Linked DNA regions of Homo sapiens: region 2 is linked to region 1. The links come from fine-mapping of genetic effects on gene expression. Tissue or cell type: whole blood. Region 1 holds a variant in brackets; the other region holds the start of a gene. All regions are shown on one strand. Distances are from middle to middle. Region 1 overlaps ATP11A (ATPase phospholipid transporting 11A). Region 2 holds the start of ATP11A (ATPase phospholipid transporting 11A).

Region 1 (8,796 bases):
CAGGAGGCTACAGAATTAAATGTTGGCTTAGACTATACTGTCCCTCCATGCCTTCAAGAAAGTTGAATCCTTCTGGTAATTGGGGAGAAAAAATTCCCTCTGCAATTCGTAGGTATAGCCAGTGTTTTCATGACTTCTATTTGTATAAATGATTTCCATGTTTATTATATCATGTAATCTCTAAAACAACCCTGTGAGCCCACCAATACTGATTATTACCAATGTATCCATGAGGAAGCTGAGGCTTAGAGCTCAGTCATGTGCCTGAGGCCACAGAAGAGGATAGAGCCCCTGTAGTCTGGCACTGGGCTTGGACTTCCTTCCGCAGAGCCAGGGGCCCTTTCTTTTCATTTTTGAGACAGAGTCTCTCTCTGTGCCCAGGCTGGAGTGCAATGGTGCGATCCTGGCTCACTGCAACCTCCACCGCCCGGGTTTAAGTGATTCTCCTGCCTCAGCCTCCCAAGTAGCTGGAACTACAGGTGCCCACCACCACACCTAGTTAATTTTTATGTTTTTAGCAAAGATGGGGTTTTGCCATTGTTGGCCAGGCTGGTCTTGTACTCCTGACCTCAGGTGATTCACCCGCCTCGGCCTCCCAAAGTGCTGGGTTTACAGACGTGAGTCGCCGCGCCCATCCAGGGGCACGTTTCTTAACAGCCCCTCTGGGTGCTCACGAATTTCCGGCATCAGCAATCCACCATCCTGGCATAATTTTCTGTGTTTTGCATCCCTGCCTCCCGGTCATAAACAAAAGAGTGACCTCAGTTCCATGCGAGTGGCTGCTTGTCCCAAGCAGATGGGTGTCCGGCGTCCCCGCCTTTTTCAGGACTGTCAGGTGGGCCCTGTGGTGCTGGAGCTGTGTTCAGGTGAACACTAGTTGAGGCTTCAGACAGCTTGTAGGTGCTCCTGCGGGCGCCTGGGCTGCTGGCAGGGGACAGTGCCCGGGTTCGTCTCGCAGCCAGAGGCCAGAGGCAGGCCAGGTGAGGCCATGCTCTTCCCTGTCTGCACACCACACTGCTGGCAAGTAACACAAAACAGAGACTGGCTACCCCAAGGGGCAGGAGGCAGCGGAAACCTGAGGCTCAGACACTAGTGAGGCGTTCCAGCTCAGGGCCAAAATCAGAGCCAGGGCAGCTGTGGACTCTGGCTATGGCGTCTGTCGTACAAGTGAGAAACGAAAAGAATGACTGTCCCGTGTCATTCAGCAAAACACATGGTGTCTTTGGAGGTGAAGAGAGGTGCCAAGCACCACTCGGTTTTCCCAGATTTCCTGTAGGAGGAAAACCACTTGGTTCTATGCTGTGGCTTTCACGCCAGGAGCTCCTAGGATTGAGGACGTCTACTGATTGTATCACAGTCGAAGGGCCCAGTGTTACATTACATTGTGTCCCCAGGCAAATACTTACATTTTTACAATTCAACAACGATGAGCGAAGGATAACTGTCCACCATTGTCAGCCTTCCCACTCTAACGTGTGGAATAAAATGCTCATTTCAGTTGATTGTATCCCGATGGTACTGCTGTGTCAGTGCAGTCACGACCCTTTAAATGAGTTCCCTGGGATTTCACTTTTCTTGTTAGACATCACCAGGAATTAATAACCCTCCTTTTGACAATAGTAGTGGTCAGCAGTAATAACTTACTCTGTGAAACATAGAGATTACACAGCATCATGGGGCTTGGCTGCAGCCCTCAGTGCCTGATTAGAATAAAGCAATTGAGGCCAGGCGCAGTGGCTCACACCTGTAATCCCAGAACTTTGGGAGGCCGAAGCGGGCGGATCACGAGGTCAGGAGTTCTAGACAAGCCTGGCCAACATGGTGAAATCCTGTCTCTACCAAAAAATAAAAAATTAACTGCGTGTGGTGGCGGGCGCCTGTATTTCTAGCTACTCGGGAGGTTGAGGCAGGAAAATCGCTTGAACCCGGGAGGCAGAGGTTGCAGTGAGCCGAGATTGTGCCAACGCACTCCAGCCTGGGTGACAGACAGAGTAAGACCCTGTCTCAAGAAAAGAAAAGAAAAAAAGAATAAAGCAATCATGCAGGTGGTTTCAAATTCCAAAGCTGTACAGTAACATTCAAATATGGCAAGGCCCTGCCAGGTGCGGTGGCTCACGCCTGTAATTCCAGCACTTTGGGAGGCTGAGGCAGGTGGATCACCTGAAGTCAGGAGTTCAAGATCAGCCTGGGCAACATGGTGAAATCCCGTCTCTATTAAAAATACAAAAATTAGCCGGGCATCTTGGGGGGTTGCCTGTAATCCCAGCTACTCGGGAGGCTGAGGCACGAGAATCGCTTGAACCTGGGAGGCAGAGGTTGCAGTGAGCCGAGATGGCGCCACTGCACTCCAGCCTGGGCGACAGAGTGAGACTTCATCTCAAAATAAATAAATAAATAAGTTATGGCAAGTCCATGAGTTTGCACAGCCTTCCAGGCCTGATGGAAGTAGATCTGCATGTTTGGAAGGATTGCAGATCATATTTTATCTCATAAATATTACCAGAACTTCCTCGTGTAACATGGGAACTTTCAAAACCATAGAGAGGAGCATTGTAAATCTCTGTGGCTCGTCTCCACTGTCACAGTTCCCAGCTTGTGGCCAGCCTGTTGCATCTGCACCTTCACTGTAGTTCCAAGGGTCCTTTGGAAGGAATCCTGGACAGCGTGTACTTTTCATCTGAAAGTACTTCAGTAAATGAAAGGTGGAATTTTAAGTAGACTCTTTTTTCATTAATGTGACTTTGTTACTGAGTGATGTATTATAGAAATTTGTGGAAACGTATAATTGTAATAAATTTGTTGGCTTGGATGCTGGAAAGTAAGACTGGCCTCACATGGGTGAGCTAAGGTATTTCTTTAATGTATCCTTTTAAAAGCTAATGGAGAGTAACTGACTTTTTCATTGTGGCCCATTTGAGAGAAAATATATCTTTCTCAAATATTTAAAAAGGTCGATCACATGTGTAATGTTTGCCAAGTTGTATACACAAGAAAACTAGAACTCAGAATCATTAAATAATTTGCTGAAGTTTACATGGTTTTTAAATGGCAGGGTCAGGATCGAATATGGGGACTGACTCTGAAGTCTATGTGTTTCATAGTATGCTAAAGAGTAAATATTTCCAGAATTTCGATAGAGTACCTAAATTATCTTGAGGTGGGGTTAGCAAATTGTGAATTAAGATTGTGGTTTTTGTAAAGGAAGAAAGTGCCTATACTTTTATTGGCAATCTGGTGTTTTTGTTTGCTTTTTTTCTGAATGAGAAACAAAAGAAATGAAGAGCTAGCCATGTGTTCTCTACTCTGTCTCAGTTTGTATGGCTACTTTTCCATCCAGAGCTCTTGCCTTTTGGTTCTCAATTTGGTTGCATTCCCATGAAGAAAACCTAGTGTGGCAGGCAGAAGGATGGCCTCCCACAGATGTCCACATCCTGATCCCCAGAACCTCTGACTATGACACTGTCTGTGGCCAGGGAATCAAGATTGCCAAACAGCTGACATTAAAATAGGGAGGTGATTATAGAACTATTCATGTGGCCAAAAGTAACCACAGAGGCACTTGTAAGTGGAAGAGGGAGGCAGAACAGACTGTCCGAGCTACGACTGGCTTCAGAGGTTGAAGGGGACCAAAGGATGTAGGCAGCCTCTGCAGGAAGCAAGAAAAGGCAAGAAAAGTTTCTCCCTGGAGCCTCCAGGAAGGAACCAGCCCTGCTGATACTTTAATTTTAACCCAGTGAATCCCATTGCAAACTTCTGACCTCCAGAACAGTAAGGTAATAAATTTGCATTGTTTTAAGTCACAAAGTGGAATTTGTTATAGCAGCATAAGAAACTCATACACCTGTCCTAACTACTTTGGGGATTTATAATACAGACTGTACGGAGATTGACGCGGTGTCAAAGGACCCGTGACCTTGAGACATGCCCATAGAATCATACACCTGCCCTAGCCACATCGGGGATTTGTAATACAGGCTGCTCAGAGACTGACGTGGTGTGCAAAGGACCCGTGACCTTGAGACATGTCCATAGAAACTTTCCAAACTGAAGAGCAAAGAGGAAAAAAGAGTGAAGAAACAGAACAGAACTGTGGACAACTACAATAGGTGAAGCAGGCCAGGCACGGTGGTCACGCCTGTAATCCTGGCGCTTTGGGAGGCTAAGGTGGGCAGATCACCTGAGGTCAGGAGTTTGAGACAAGACTGGCCAACATGGTGAAACCCCGTCTGTACTGAAAATACAAAAAATAAAA[A/T]TTTTTTTTAAAAAAATTAGCCAGGTGTGGTGGCAGGTGCCTGTAATCCCAGCTACTTGGGAGGCTGAGGCACAAGAATCCCTTGAAGCTGGGAGGCAGAGGTTGCAGTGAGCCAAGATAGCACCACTGCACTCCACCCTGGGCAGCCAGAGTGAAAACTCCATCTCAAAAAAAAAAAAAAAAAAAAAGGTAAACCATATATGCATAATGAAAAAAACAAAAGAAGAGAGAAGAAATATCTCCAGTAAAAGTGGCTATTTCCAAAATTAATGGCAGATGCCAAACTACCGATCCAGGAAGCTCAGAGATAAATACAAAAGCAGAATAAATTTTTTAAAAAGGGTACACCTAGACATATCACATTTAAATTGCAGAAAATTAGACTCAGAAAAAATCTTGAAAGAAGCCACAGGAAAAGAACATTTTACCTGCTGAGAAACAAGGGTAAGAATTATATCAAACTTTCTTCCAGAAACCATCTAAGGAAGAAAAGAATAATGTAAAATATTTAAAGTGTTGAAAGAAAAAGCCAGCAACCCAGAATTCTGTATCTCATAAAATTATCCTTCATTCGTGAAGGAGAAATAAAGACTTTTTCAGGCAAACAAAAATTGAGCGAATTCATTGCCAGTAGACCTCCCTTGCAAGAAATGTTAAAAGTTCTTCAGAAAGAAGGAAAATTATATAGGTCAGAAATTCAGGTCTACTTAGGAAAGAAGAACACAGCACTAAAGTGTGAGTTTTTGTGCTGTTACAACAGAATACCACAGACTGGGTAATTTATAGAGAAGAGACATTGATTTCCCCACAGTTCTAGAGTCTGGGAAGTCCAAGATCAAGACACTGGCAGGTTTGGTGTCTGGTGAGGGCCCCATCTCTGCTTCCAAGATGGCTCCTTGAGCACTGCATCCTCTGGAGTGGGGGAAGGCTGTGTCCTTATGTGGCAGAAGGCAAAAGGGCAAAGGGGCAAACTCCCTCTGCCGAGCCCTTTTATACAGGCACCTAATCCCATTCATGAGGGAGGAGCCCGCATGGCGGAATCAGAACTCTTGAAGGCCCCGCCTCCTGGGACCGTGACTAGTTGTCACATTGGCAACACCTGAATTTTGGAGGGGACACATTCAAACCATAGCAAGAAGGAATAAGTGAAGGTAGTAAAATTAAATATTTTGCTTTTTTGTTGTTTTTTATTTCTTTTAGAGACGTGATCTCACCATGTTGCCCAGACGGGTTTAGAACTTCTGGGCTCAAGGGATCCACTGCCTCAGCCTCCTGAAGTGCTAGGATTACAGGGCACAGCACCCAGCTTGCTTTTCGTGTTCTTAATTGGTCTAACAGAGAGTACTTTATTCAGAATGATAATAGCATTTACTCAGTGGTGATTGCTCAGGGGTGAATGAAATGTATGACAGCAGTGCCCTGGGGGGCAAGAAGGAACTGGGCATGCTGTTGCGAGGAATCTGCGCCACACACACAGTGCGGGTTATGTGAGAGTGGGCGTATATTGTGGCCTCTAGTGCAACCACTAAGTAATTTTTTTAAAAAATAAGTATAGTTGATATTCTAAGACAGGAGAGAAAATAGTCACATCAAATGCTTAATTAAAACCCAAGATGGCAGGAAAAGAGTATAAGTCACAAAAGAAACAAAGACTATGAAGAAAGGAATAAAAGTCAGTTACAAATATGGTAAATATTAATCCAGCTATATTAATAATCACTTTAAGTGTGAATTGTCTAAATAAACCAAATACAGAAACTGTCAGAATAGAAAAAACAAGACCTAACCATATGTTGTGTGCAGGAAAGGCACTTTAAATATAAAAACACGGGTTTAAGAGATAGAGGAAGATGTACCATGCTGCTACTACTCAAAGGGACACAAGATTAGCTATATTAATTTCAGACAAAGCAGACTTCAGAACAAGAGAAGTTACCAGGGATAAAGAGGGGCATTGCCAAACAACAAAGAGGTCAGTTCTCCAAGACAACATAACAATTCTCAAAGTCTCTGTAACAACAGAGGGTCAAAATATGTGAGGCAAAAACGGATAGAACTGGAAAGAGAAAGAAAATCCACTGTTATATTTGGACACTTCATGACCTCTGTCCACAGGCAGAAAATCAGTAAGGACACGGTTGAACTGAACAGCACCATCAGTCCCTTGGATCTAATGGACCTTTATGTCTCACGCGTCCATGTGAAGAGAGTCCACCAATAGGCTTTGTGTGAGCAACAAGGCTGTTTATTCACTTGGATGCAAGTGGGCTGAGTCCGAGAAAGGAGTCAGCAAAGGGAGATGGAGGTGGGGCAGTTCTATAGGATTTGGGTATGTAGTGGAAAATTACAGTTAAAGGTGGTTATCCCTTGTGGGCAGGGGCGGGGGTCACAAGGTGCAGGGTGGGGAGGTCATGAGACTCATTGTCCAGGGGGGAATGTCACAAGGTTGATTGATTAGTTGGGGTGAGGCAGGAACAAATCACAAAGGTGGAATGTCATCTTTTGTGGTTCTTCAGTTGCTCCAGGCCATCTGGGTGTATATGTGCAGGTCACAGGCTTAGCTTGGGCTCAGAGGCCTCACAATTTATAAAATACTTCATTCAACAATAGCAGACCACACATTCTTCTCAAGTTCACATGGAACATTTGCCATGACAGATCACATTCTGGGCCATAAAATACACCTTAGCACCTTTTCAAAGAATAGAAATCATACCAAGTACTCTTTCAGACCACAGTAGAATTAAACTAGAAATAAATAAATAACAAAGTTAACTGGAAAATCCCAAAATATTTGGAGATTAAACAAAACACTACTAAATAACACATGAACCAAAGAAGTCTCAAGAGGCATAAAAATATTTTAAGCTAAACAAAAAATATAACTTATCAAATCTTGTGGGATGCAGGAAAAGCAGTGCTTAGAGGGAAATTTATAGTATTGACTACATAGATTAGAAAAGAAGAAAGATCCAAAATCTACAAGCTTCAACATTAGGAAACTTAACAAAAAATTAATAATCAACATTAGAACAGAAATTAATGAAATTGAAAACAGGAAATCAGAGAAAATTTTAAACATCAAAAGCTGGTTCTTTGAAAAAAAAAAATCAATAAAATCAATAAAACTTTAGCCAGGCTAAACAAGAGGAAAAGAAAAGAGACACAAATTCCAAACATCAGAAATAAAGGAGGGGCATCACTACTGGTAACATGGCTAATAAAAAGATTAAAAGGAATATCATGAACAGCCCTACACCCATAAACTTGGTAACTTAGATAACATTGGCCAGTTTCTTGAAAAACGCTATCTACCAAAACTCAAACAAGGAGAAATATAATCTGGGTGGGCCTACATCAATTAAAAGAAATGGAATCCGTAATTAATACTCTTCCAAAACGGAAAGCACAAGACTCAGATGTTTTCACTGGTGAATTCTACCAAACATTTAAGGAAAAAAAAAAAAATCAATTCTCTACAATCTCTTCCAGGTAATAGAAGCGGAAGGAACATTTTCTAATTCGTTCTATGAGGCCAGCATTACCCTAAAACCAAAACCAGAAAAAGATATTACCAGAAAGACGATATCACACACCAGTATTTCTCATGAACATAGAAGCAACGATTCTCAATAAAATATTAGCAAGTCCAATTCAACAATGTATAAAAAGAATTATACACCATGACCAAGTGGGTTTATCCTAGGTATGCAAGGCTGATCCAACATTTGAAAATCGACTAATATAACCCATATTTACAGGCTAAAAAAGAAAACTTACATGATTATATCAATAGGTGCAGAAAAAGAATTTGACAAAATTCACTACCCACTCATGTACTGCAGCAAACTAAAAACAGAGGGGAATTTCCTGAGCTTCATAAAGAGCATCTCCGAAAAGCCCTACAGCTGACGTCATACTTAATGGTGAAAAACGAGATGGTTTCACCCTAAGATTGGAAAAAAGGCAAGAAATCCCTTATCACTGTTCTTATTCAGCATTGTACTGGAAATCCTAGCTAATACAGTAAGAGTAGAAATGGGAATAAAAGGCCTACAGCTGACGTCATACTTAATGGTGAAAAACGAGATGATTTCACCCTAAGATTGGAAAAAAGGCAAGAAATCCCTTATCACTGTTCTTATTCAGCATTGTACTGGAAATCCTAGCTAATACAGTAAGAGTAGAAATGGGAATAAAAGGCCTACAGCTGACGTCATACTTAATGGTGAAAAACGAGATGATTTCACCCTAAGATTGGAAAAAAGGCAAGAAATCCCTTATCACTGTTCTTATGCAGCATTGTACTGGAAATCCTAGCTAATACAGTAAGAGTAGAAATGGGAATAAAAGTCCTACAGATTGGGAAGGAAGGAATAAGACTATCTTTGTTCACAAGTGATATGATTGTCCATGCAGAAAATCCCAAAGAACCAACAATAACAAAAAAACTTCTGGATGTTAGAGGCGATTATAGCATGGTTGCAGGATGCAAAAATTAATCGCTATCCTATATGCCAGCAATGAACAGTTGGAATTTGAAA
Region 2 (8,796 bases), 110 kb before region 1:
TGGAGGAGCAAGGCTGTTTGCCCTCGGAGGCCCAGCTTGAGTCACCACCCTCAGGTAATAGCTCTTTCTAGCACCAAAATGACACTCATTAATAATTCACACTTCCTGGTTCTGTGTCTACAGCAGTTGGCTCTGGCTTTGGGTTTGTCATTTCAGGTCTCGGTGCAACAATTCTTCTGAACTGTCTTTGCAGGAAGACCTCATTTTTTTGCCCCCACTCCCTTATTTCCCCCCAGTTTTTTTCACTTAGGGGCCAATGAATCCAAGATTTCTTTGGAAAGAAAGGTGGAGGGAGGAATGCAGGATAGGTGTTTATGAGTCTGTGTGTAGGTGAGGGTGTGGCCAGGGTGTCACCTGAAGCACCCATTTGCAAACCCACAATTTCAAGTCTTGGGGTTGGCCTCCTAGCTGTTGCCTCCTCCTCATTCATCCCATCCCTCCAGCACTGTGAAGCAGCTGTGCTCGCAGTGGGTCAGGGGTAGGTCCTGGTTATTTGAGGCGAAGACAATTTCATTCCCCTTGGACACTTACTAGTTTGGTGATGTGCACTGACCTCGGGCCTAAGCCAATCATCTCAGGGACTCTGCTACTTGCGTGACAGACTGGGCAGGAGTGGGCACGTGACTTAGCTGGCACGTCACTGTGAAGTCTCTCCTTCTGCTTAGATGTGAAGGAAGAAACTTGCAGGCCCTGGAGTTCTGGCAGTCGTTTCACTTTTGAATGCACTGGGAGGGGCACCAACACATTACATTATCATTTATTCAGTCTATGGTAGATTATTTCCAAAGATAATCCCCCATAAATTCTCTGTATGATAATCCCTCATAAGGATTAGGAGTTCTCATAATCCCTCATAAGGATCCCTGTCTGTACATGGGATCCTCCCATCAAGGAGTGAAATCTACGTTCTTATCCCTTGAATCTAGGCTGGCCTTGGAATTTATATTCACCAGTAGAACATGGTAGAAGTCATATTCTTGGACTTCCAAACCCGGGCCTTACAGGCTGTATAGCGTCCACATTGACCCTCCTGAGCTGCCATGTAAAAAACTCAGGCTAGACCACTGAATGATGAGAAGCCAGAGAGAGACAGCAAGGCCGGCCTGCCCCCAGTGTTCTATCACCCTAGCTGAGACCCCAGCTGTGTGACTAGACCACAGGAAGCTTCCAGCCCCAGCTGACCCCCAGAAGAATGCAGCTGCAGGACAATCCCAGCCAACAACAGGTGGAGCAGAAGCACCATCGCACCAATTCCGCAGGGTCCTGAGAAATGGTAACCCACTCACTGCCGTTTCAGCTCCTGCACTCGCGGTCACTCGTGACACAGCCAAAAATAACTGACTCACAGGGTGTCTTAGTCTGCTCAGGCTGCTGTAACAAAATCCTTTAGATGGCTATTCATACACACAGAAGTTTGCTTCCCACAGTTCTGAAGGCTGAGAAATCCAAGATCAAGGTCCCAGCAGATCTGGCATCTGAGAAAAGTTCTCTGCTTCATAGAAGGCCTCTTCTAAGCATCTTCATATGGCAGAAAGGGCAAGCAGGCTCCCAAAAACCTCAGTTTTAAAGGGCACTAATCCCATTCCTAACCACCTCCCAAGGCCCCCACCTCTTAATATTTGGGATTAGGTATCAGGTATTTGGGATTAGGTTTCCACGTGTGAATTTGGGAGGACACCTTCAGACCATAGCACAGGGTGAGTTGGACTTTGTTTTTTAATAGCCCTGATTTTTTTTTCTTAGATTTACCGTGAAGATGCTGACATGTGTTAGAAACAGAAAATCCAGCTCATGTGGTTTAAACGGAGACGTCTCTCATAGCAGGAAATTCCAGGTGAGGGCAGCAGGATTTTGGTGAATTGCCTGGTTGTGCCACCAAGGACTCCTGCTCTTCTCATCTTCCCAGGCGGCCACCCCAGGGTGAAGATGCTCTTCCGGCCACCTTCTCTTATAAGTGCAAAGGGCTGCGGAGCACCAGGCATTGCATCCAGACAGGGAATGCAACATTCACCAGGGAAAAAGGAGCATTTCCTCTTTATGTTCCTGTAGGAGTGAGAAAACCTTTGCCAGACAACCCCCAGCAGGCTTCCTGTTGGGACTCATTGACTTGAGCTTGTTTGAAGCCAATTGTTGGAAAGAGAAATGGAGTTACCAAGATTTTCTCAAGAGACAGAGTTTACCCTTAGCCACACAGAGTGGATACCTGAACCAGCAAGGATAGAGAGGGCATGGCTGCTGCATTGTCAACCAACAGTATTCACAACAGAATGAAAAACAATTCACATTTACTACTGAATAAAGCAGACACTCCTGACAGACAGGCAGCCTTGATCTAGTGCCTTATACAACCTCTGATTGCGCCTCGACCCCAATCCCACAGTCACGGTTTACAAGGTAGAAGCTTAGTCAAAATCCGGCTTCAGCAGTCAGGGTTCTTGCAGGAAACTGAAGGTGTTCTTGGGAGGGGATTTGGAAGCGAGTTTGATGAAGGACTCTTTGTTGCGGTGTGGTCATGGTTCAAGGATCCTTCAAAGGGTGCTGCTATTTAGGGACCAGCAACAATGGCAGACCGACAACATGTCTCACCCTAAGAGGCTTGGGGGCGGGGAGAAGTTCTGTTCGTAGAGCCTAGAGGAGTTGTGCAATGGAAAGGGCACCCAGGAAGAATCGTAGCCACAGAGTGAAACCAACACTGGTGGGTGTGGGGCCAGGCCAGGAAGGAGAGGGGAAGAGGCCCCTGCCTCCCTCCTACCCGGTCTGCAGCAGGTTGTCCCTGTGGGTGAAGATCCACTGAGGGGGACCGCCAGCTTCCTGAGCACAGGGCAGGCCAGAGCAGGACAGGCTGGGATGGAAAATGAAGAATCAGTGCTTTAGCCGACAACAAATGGGAGCCGTTTACTGTTTAGTCACTATGATTAGTGTTCACTAGTACTCATTTCTCTTCGTCTAAAAAGTGGCCAACACCATCTCTTTTCCACAAGCACTCGGGAGAACATTCATATTCAATTGCCTTCCTAAGACCCAGACGGGGCAGCGCTCTCCACAGGCCACCAAAAGGTGTTGCCTGTTTGGTTTCATCAGTGATTATCTGTGGCAGCAAGACAGGAAGTTGGAAATCAAGTACCTCAATTAAGTCAAGGCTGACCGTGGAATTAGAGAACAAGTGTTTGTTACCCCGGCCAGGTCACCCTAGGGAAAACAGGCATTCTCCGGGATTGAAATGGTGGTGTTTGTGTGGTAAATAGTTCTCAGTCCAGTTCAAAGCCAGCAGCATTAAGGACACGCCACCGCCACCGGGAGCTGGAGACCAGGCGAAGCTGAGCTCCTCTGTGGTTCACCAACCCCTCAGGCCGCCTAAGTGTCTTCTGCTGTCGCAGCTTTGGGGACAGAGGGGTTTCGGAAACAGGGGCCTCTTGTCTGCACCCTCCCCTCCCACTGACAGGCTGGCAGCCCAGGGCAGCCACCTGAGGAGCGTCCCTGTGTCTCTCCATCTGCAGAGCAGGAAAAGCCTGCGGGTCGGTGGCGCCACGCTGGGGCGAGACCCAGCTTCGGCTCAGGAGATCTCCCACCCAGCCGGACTCCCGCTCTCTGCCCGCGGCCCCCTCCCACACTCCCACCTCGCCCCGCGATCTCACTGCCCCATCGAGGCTTCCGGGCGGAGGAGAAAAGTTTTCCGGCAGGAACCCGGGAAGGAAGCCCTGGGACCCTGGCTGAAACTCCGGGTTTCCCCAGTGCCGAGTCCCTTCCCCGCCGCGCCCAGCGCCTGCGCCCCGGGAGGCGGAAGCAACAGGGGGGTTCCTCCCCGCGGCCTCTGACCTCTGCCCTCTGCCCTCTGCCCCCAGGGTCTGGGGCCCGGGCGGAGGCGCGAGGGGGCAGGGCCGGCGCGCGGGTGCGAGCGCGGGTGTGGGCGCGGGGCCGGCGGGGGCTGCGGCCGCGGGGCGCATGCTCACTTGCGCCGGTGACGTGCGCGCCCGGAGCAGGGGCAGGAGCCAGCGGGGCCCGGAGGCTCCAGAGGGCGGCGGGCAGGGGAGGAGGAGACTCGGGAGGAGCAGAGCGCAGGCTCCGCCGCGGCCGGGGTGCTCCAGCCGAGCCCAACCGAGCGGGCGGACCGACGGGGAGAGAGAAGGCGCCAGAGCGCGCGCGCGCGGCCCCGAGCAGCAGCCTTGCCGCCAGTGGAGCAGCTGCCGACGCGCGGGGCCGCGGACCCAGCATTCGCCGGCCGGGCCGGGCATGAGCGCGGAGGGGCCGCGGCCGCCCCCTGCACCGCCCGGCGCGCCGAGGCCGTGACCGGAGCGGGGGGCGCGGCCGCACTAGTACCCCGGAGCCCATGGGCGCGCCGAGCCGGGCGCGGGGGCGCTGAACGGCGGAGCGGGAGCGGCCGGAGGAGCCATGGACTGCAGCCTCGTGCGGACGCTCGTGCACAGATACGTGAGTGCTCCCGGCGCGGGCTGGGGGACCCGGGGACCAGACAGACGCGGGCCGGCCCCGCAGCCCGGACCCTGTGGCCGGTCCAGCCCCGGGGTCCCGGGAGGTCTCCGATGTCTGGGACTCGGACCGCCCCCGGGGACGAGCGGGATGCTGGGGAGGGGCCTCGGAGTTGACACCCTGGGGCTTCCGACGGGGTCTAGGTGGGCACAGCGCGGGGCCCCAGCCCCGGGCGGCCACCTGCTCCCTGGCCGCGGCCGCCTGGCGCCCCCTTCCCGCCCGCAGCGCCCTGGGGGTCCCTCGGAGAGGCTGGCTGGGGTTCGAGCTGTCCCGGCGGACCGGGCGCCCGGAGGGAGCCAACTTCGACCCCGCCGGGGCCCGGGTCTGGGGAGGAACCTTCAGATGCGGCTTCCGCGCAGCCGTGTCTGTAAGATTAAGGGATTGGGAGGAAGCGTTACACTTCTGCAGAAAAAGGTAGCAATTGTGTTTGTTCTTTAACACCCCTGGGGGATTCAGAAGCGGAGTTTGGAATCTTTTTATTTTTTACCTTAAAGTAACCAATTAGATCAGAAGTCCGGGGTCTTCTTGGGTTCCTCTGGAATTTGCCCCTTCAGTGATAAGCAAGTGAAGAGCTCAGGAGGGAAGACTCGGAAGGGGAAAAGTTGATTTTGTTTTACACCAGAGGAGGGGAAACCGGAATCCCTGGCGTTAGGTGTAAAAAGGGGTGTGTGGCCGGGCGCGGTGGCTCACGCCTGTAATCCCAGCACTTTTGGAGGCCGAGGCGGGCGGATCACGAGGTCAGGAGTTTGAGACCAGCCGGACCGACATGGTGAAACCCCGTCTCTGCTAAAAAATACGAAAATTAGCCGGGCGTGGTGGTAGGCGCCTGGGATCCCAGCTACTCAGGAGGCTGAGGCAGGAGAATCGCTTGAACCCGGGAGGCGGTGGTTGCAATGAGCCGAGATCGAGCCACTGCACTCCAACCTGGGTGACAGAGCGAGACTCTGTATCAAAAAAAAAAAAAAAAAAGGGTGTGTGTGTGTGTGTGTGTGTGTAGGAGAGGAAGAAAACTGTCCCAAGCACAGCGTTTCCTGCCACTGTCTTGCACAAGAGGCTTCATTGTTCCATAGAGGCTGGCGGTCACTGGTCAATCACAGGTTCGAGAAGTCGCATGCACCGGGTTTGATACTAGAGAGGGCAGTATTATGGGAACTTTGTTCTTTCCCGGCATAGGAATTACCTCAGGCAGCCTTTCATATTTATGAGCCTTCTTTAAATAGGAGACCTTGGCCAAAGATAGATAGGTTTCTTTTCAGTGGGGGATGCCAGATCAATGCTTTCCCCCGGATTTATTTATTAACCAAAAACCTCGGAGAGTCAAGGAGACTTGAGTGCACCTTACATCGTTTCCTGATCTCGGGGAAGCCTTAGGAAGGTCAGCCTGACTTACTTAAGTGGAGAGAACTCACCCCTGGTGATTCTGATGATTCCGATGCTAGATCTTGAAAGGCTTGGCTCCAGGAGCCTTGTGTTACTCCCTCACTGGTGCTCGAGCCCCCAGTTCAAATCCTAATGTGAGTGGTAAACCTGTGTTTCACTGTGGTAACGTTATAGAAGACCCAATCACAGTGACTATAGGTAACCTGCAGTGTAAGAGAAATGCTTTATTGGGCGGAAGCTTCTGTTCTCAGTTGTGTCGCTCAGAAGTGTGGGTCCCTAGACACCTTATTTTCCTGCTTTGTTTCCTTCGAGCGAAATGGAAGAGGGAAGGGACTAACACTCACTTTGCCCGCGGTGTTCCCAGTTCATTCCGTTCCCTTCTAACACTCAGTGTTAAAAAGGAGGGTCACGTTGTGGGGCTAATGTGCAGCCTCTTTCCATAGAAATGAGAGATGGATGGGCCAGCCCGGCTCACCCTTTGGAGAATCCCCCCTTCCCAGCCGGTTTCTGACCCCTTCATCTTGGGAGGGGGACAGACAGACGTCCAATTTTGATGCTTGACTCCCTTTCTCCAGGCCTTCAGCTGTTTTCTGTTATATAGATCTATATAAGTGTTTGCGTAGCTTGCATTTTTAATTCCCCTTTGCTGTATTATTACGCTTATGGCATCACATTTTCTTTTAATCTAAGCGGTAAATATTCTTTAGTGAACTTTTCCAGCATATACATTATTGGATAACGTCTCGGGAATACGAGTTGTGGGATAATATTATTTCTGTTTTTCTCATTCCACCTGTGTTTTTTGCAGTGTATTCATCTGGCTACCTCACCCATATTTACACACAGAGCCATTCATCTCTATCATTTTAAGTTCATGTCTATGGTATTAAACTAATTTGACTTTTTCCAGAAACAGTCATGATCTGTTTTCTTGTAATTGCGTTATCGTCCACTATGTAGGACTAAATTATATTTCCTTTTGCTACAGAAAAAAGAGTCTGGGATTGAATACTCATATTTCCTCATGGTTTCCTTATGTGACTTACTTTATTAAAAAGGATAGATAAATAGACCCTGTTCCTTCTTGGTGTTCACATAGTCAGAATTCCTGGGACAAAGAAAGCTTTCCAGCTCCTTCTGATGTGTGAGGGTGGCTAAAAGATAAAGAAGTCCTTGGAAAACATTGCTGTAGGCATTTTATTGTGGATTAACCCTGGAGAGATAGCAGAGGCAAATGAGTGAGAGAACAGATGAAGGTTAGGCCAGGGTAGCCAGGTACTCCACACTGTGTGTTACTGGTGGTTTGGGTGTTTGGATGGACCGGAGCCATGCAGAGATACTTTGTATTTGTAAATGGTGCCGTGTTTGTATACCATGAGGAGTGCTTGTGCTTATGGGGTAGTGTATGCTCCCTGGGGTGATGTATGTGCTCTGGGGGGCGTGGGGAAAAGCGTGTGTGCCGTGGGGTAGTGTATGTGCTGTGGGGTAGTGTATGCTCCCTAGGGTGATGTATGTGCTGTCGGGGGCGTGAGGTGGTGTATGCTCTCTGGGGTGATGTATGAGCTGTGGGTACGGGGAGAGGGGACGGGGTGGAGAGTGTGTGTGCCGTGGGGTGGTGTATGTGCTGTGGGAGCCATGGGGTAGCGTGTGTGCCGTGGACTGGCGTATGTGTTGTGGAGTAGTGTATGTGCTATGGGGTAGCATATGAGCCATGGGGTAGTGCATGTGCCATGAGGTAGTTTGACCTCCATGACGTAACACTTTAAAAGCACTTCTAGGCCAGGCGCGGTGGCTCATGCCTGTAATCCCAGCACTTTGGGAGGCCGAGGTGGGTGGATCGCCTGACATCAGGAGTTCAAGACCAACCTGGCCAACATGGTGAAACCCTGTCTCTACTAAAAATACAAAAATTAGCCGGGCATGGTGGCGGGTGCCTGTAATCCCAGCTACTCAGAAGGCTGAGGCAGGAGAATTGCTTGAGCACAGAAGGCGGAGGTTGCAGTGAGCTGAGATCGCACCATTGCACTCCAGCCTGGGCAACAAGAGCGAAACTCGTCTCAAAATAAATAAGAGTATTTTTAACAGCATGGATGGAGAGCGAGTTCCATTTCCTCTTCAGAGCTGTAAGGTGAGCAACACCGATTCAGGTAGTTTAAGTTCCGAGAGGAACCAGGGCAGCCTCAGCGGGTAGCTTAGATACTTTTCTTAGATACTCTCTGGGCAGTGGCCTGAATGCTGAGTGGGAGCCTCCCTGCCCTTCTTAGCCATGTGGCCTTGGGCAAGTGGCTTAATTCCTTCTGCCTCAGTTTTCTCCTCTGAGGGTAAGAGCAGTACTCATTTCATAGCTATTGTGAGGGTTGAATGAGGTAATCTGGGTGGAGAGCCAAGAATGGGGAAGCTCTCAGTCCGTTTGTCATGCCTGGCTGTTAACATAGCTGAGTCCCTGGGTAGGGTTGGCTGGGGAGAGAGCAAACCTATGGGCTGCCAGTGCTGCTGCTCAGCTACCTGTGGGTCCCGGCCTGCTGGCGTCGTGGGTCACAGGAGAGGTAAACCGGGCACCCTGACACTGAGCATGGTGTGGAGCTCAGGTAGGATTCAGAAAGCTTTACACGCTGTGGTAAAACAGCCCTTGATCTCTGTAAGGCTGAGCATCCCGGCGTGGGCAGGATGCTTCCCTCCCTCTTCCCTTCCATGCCTCTATGTAGGGCATTTGATTTTTCTTCAGAGTTCTGTGGGTCAAGAACTCAGTCTTGTTATGGTCCTATAATCTTCTTTCAATGATTCAGCCCAGATATTCCTTGTTAGTTTTGTTCTTTTGCCTGTCAGAGCTTCTGCTTGTTTCTACCTTACCATTCTTGCTTCTTAACATTCTAAGATAGAAAACATTGAAGGATCTGAAGGATTTCCTTGCTGACAGTAGATAATTACTTT

What was found. PIP is the estimated chance that this variant, and not a neighbour inherited with it, causes the effect.
Region 2: ATP11A starts here. The variant in region 1 is fine-mapped to the expression of ATP11A in whole blood (TOPMed, PIP above 0.99).

What each region holds. Positions count from the first base shown.
Region 1 is chr13:112,792,866-112,801,661 of GRCh38, forward strand. The region is part of intron 2 of ATP11A (ATPase phospholipid transporting 11A); the gene reads left to right. It overlaps LOC124903252 (a long non-coding RNA gene), which reads left to right. Exons shown (of 2, transcript XR_007063947.1): 2 at 1-2,822. Among named protein-coding and RNA genes, the nearest start is that of ATP11A-AS1, 43 kb to the left of the region's middle. The variant A/T (reference allele first, on the strand shown) is at 4,253.
Region 2 is chr13:112,686,028-112,694,823 of GRCh38, forward strand. ATP11A (ATPase phospholipid transporting 11A) reads left to right here and starts at 4,011. Exons shown (of 30, transcript NM_015205.3): 1 at 4,011-4,428. The coding sequence starts at 4,390. LOC102725228 (a long non-coding RNA gene) reads right to left here and starts at 3,788. Exons shown (of 2, transcript NR_187633.1): 1 at 3,636-3,788; 2 at 742-2,842. RefSeq lists enhancers at 2,848-3,365, 5,664-6,165 and silencers at 3,614-4,543, 4,564-4,803.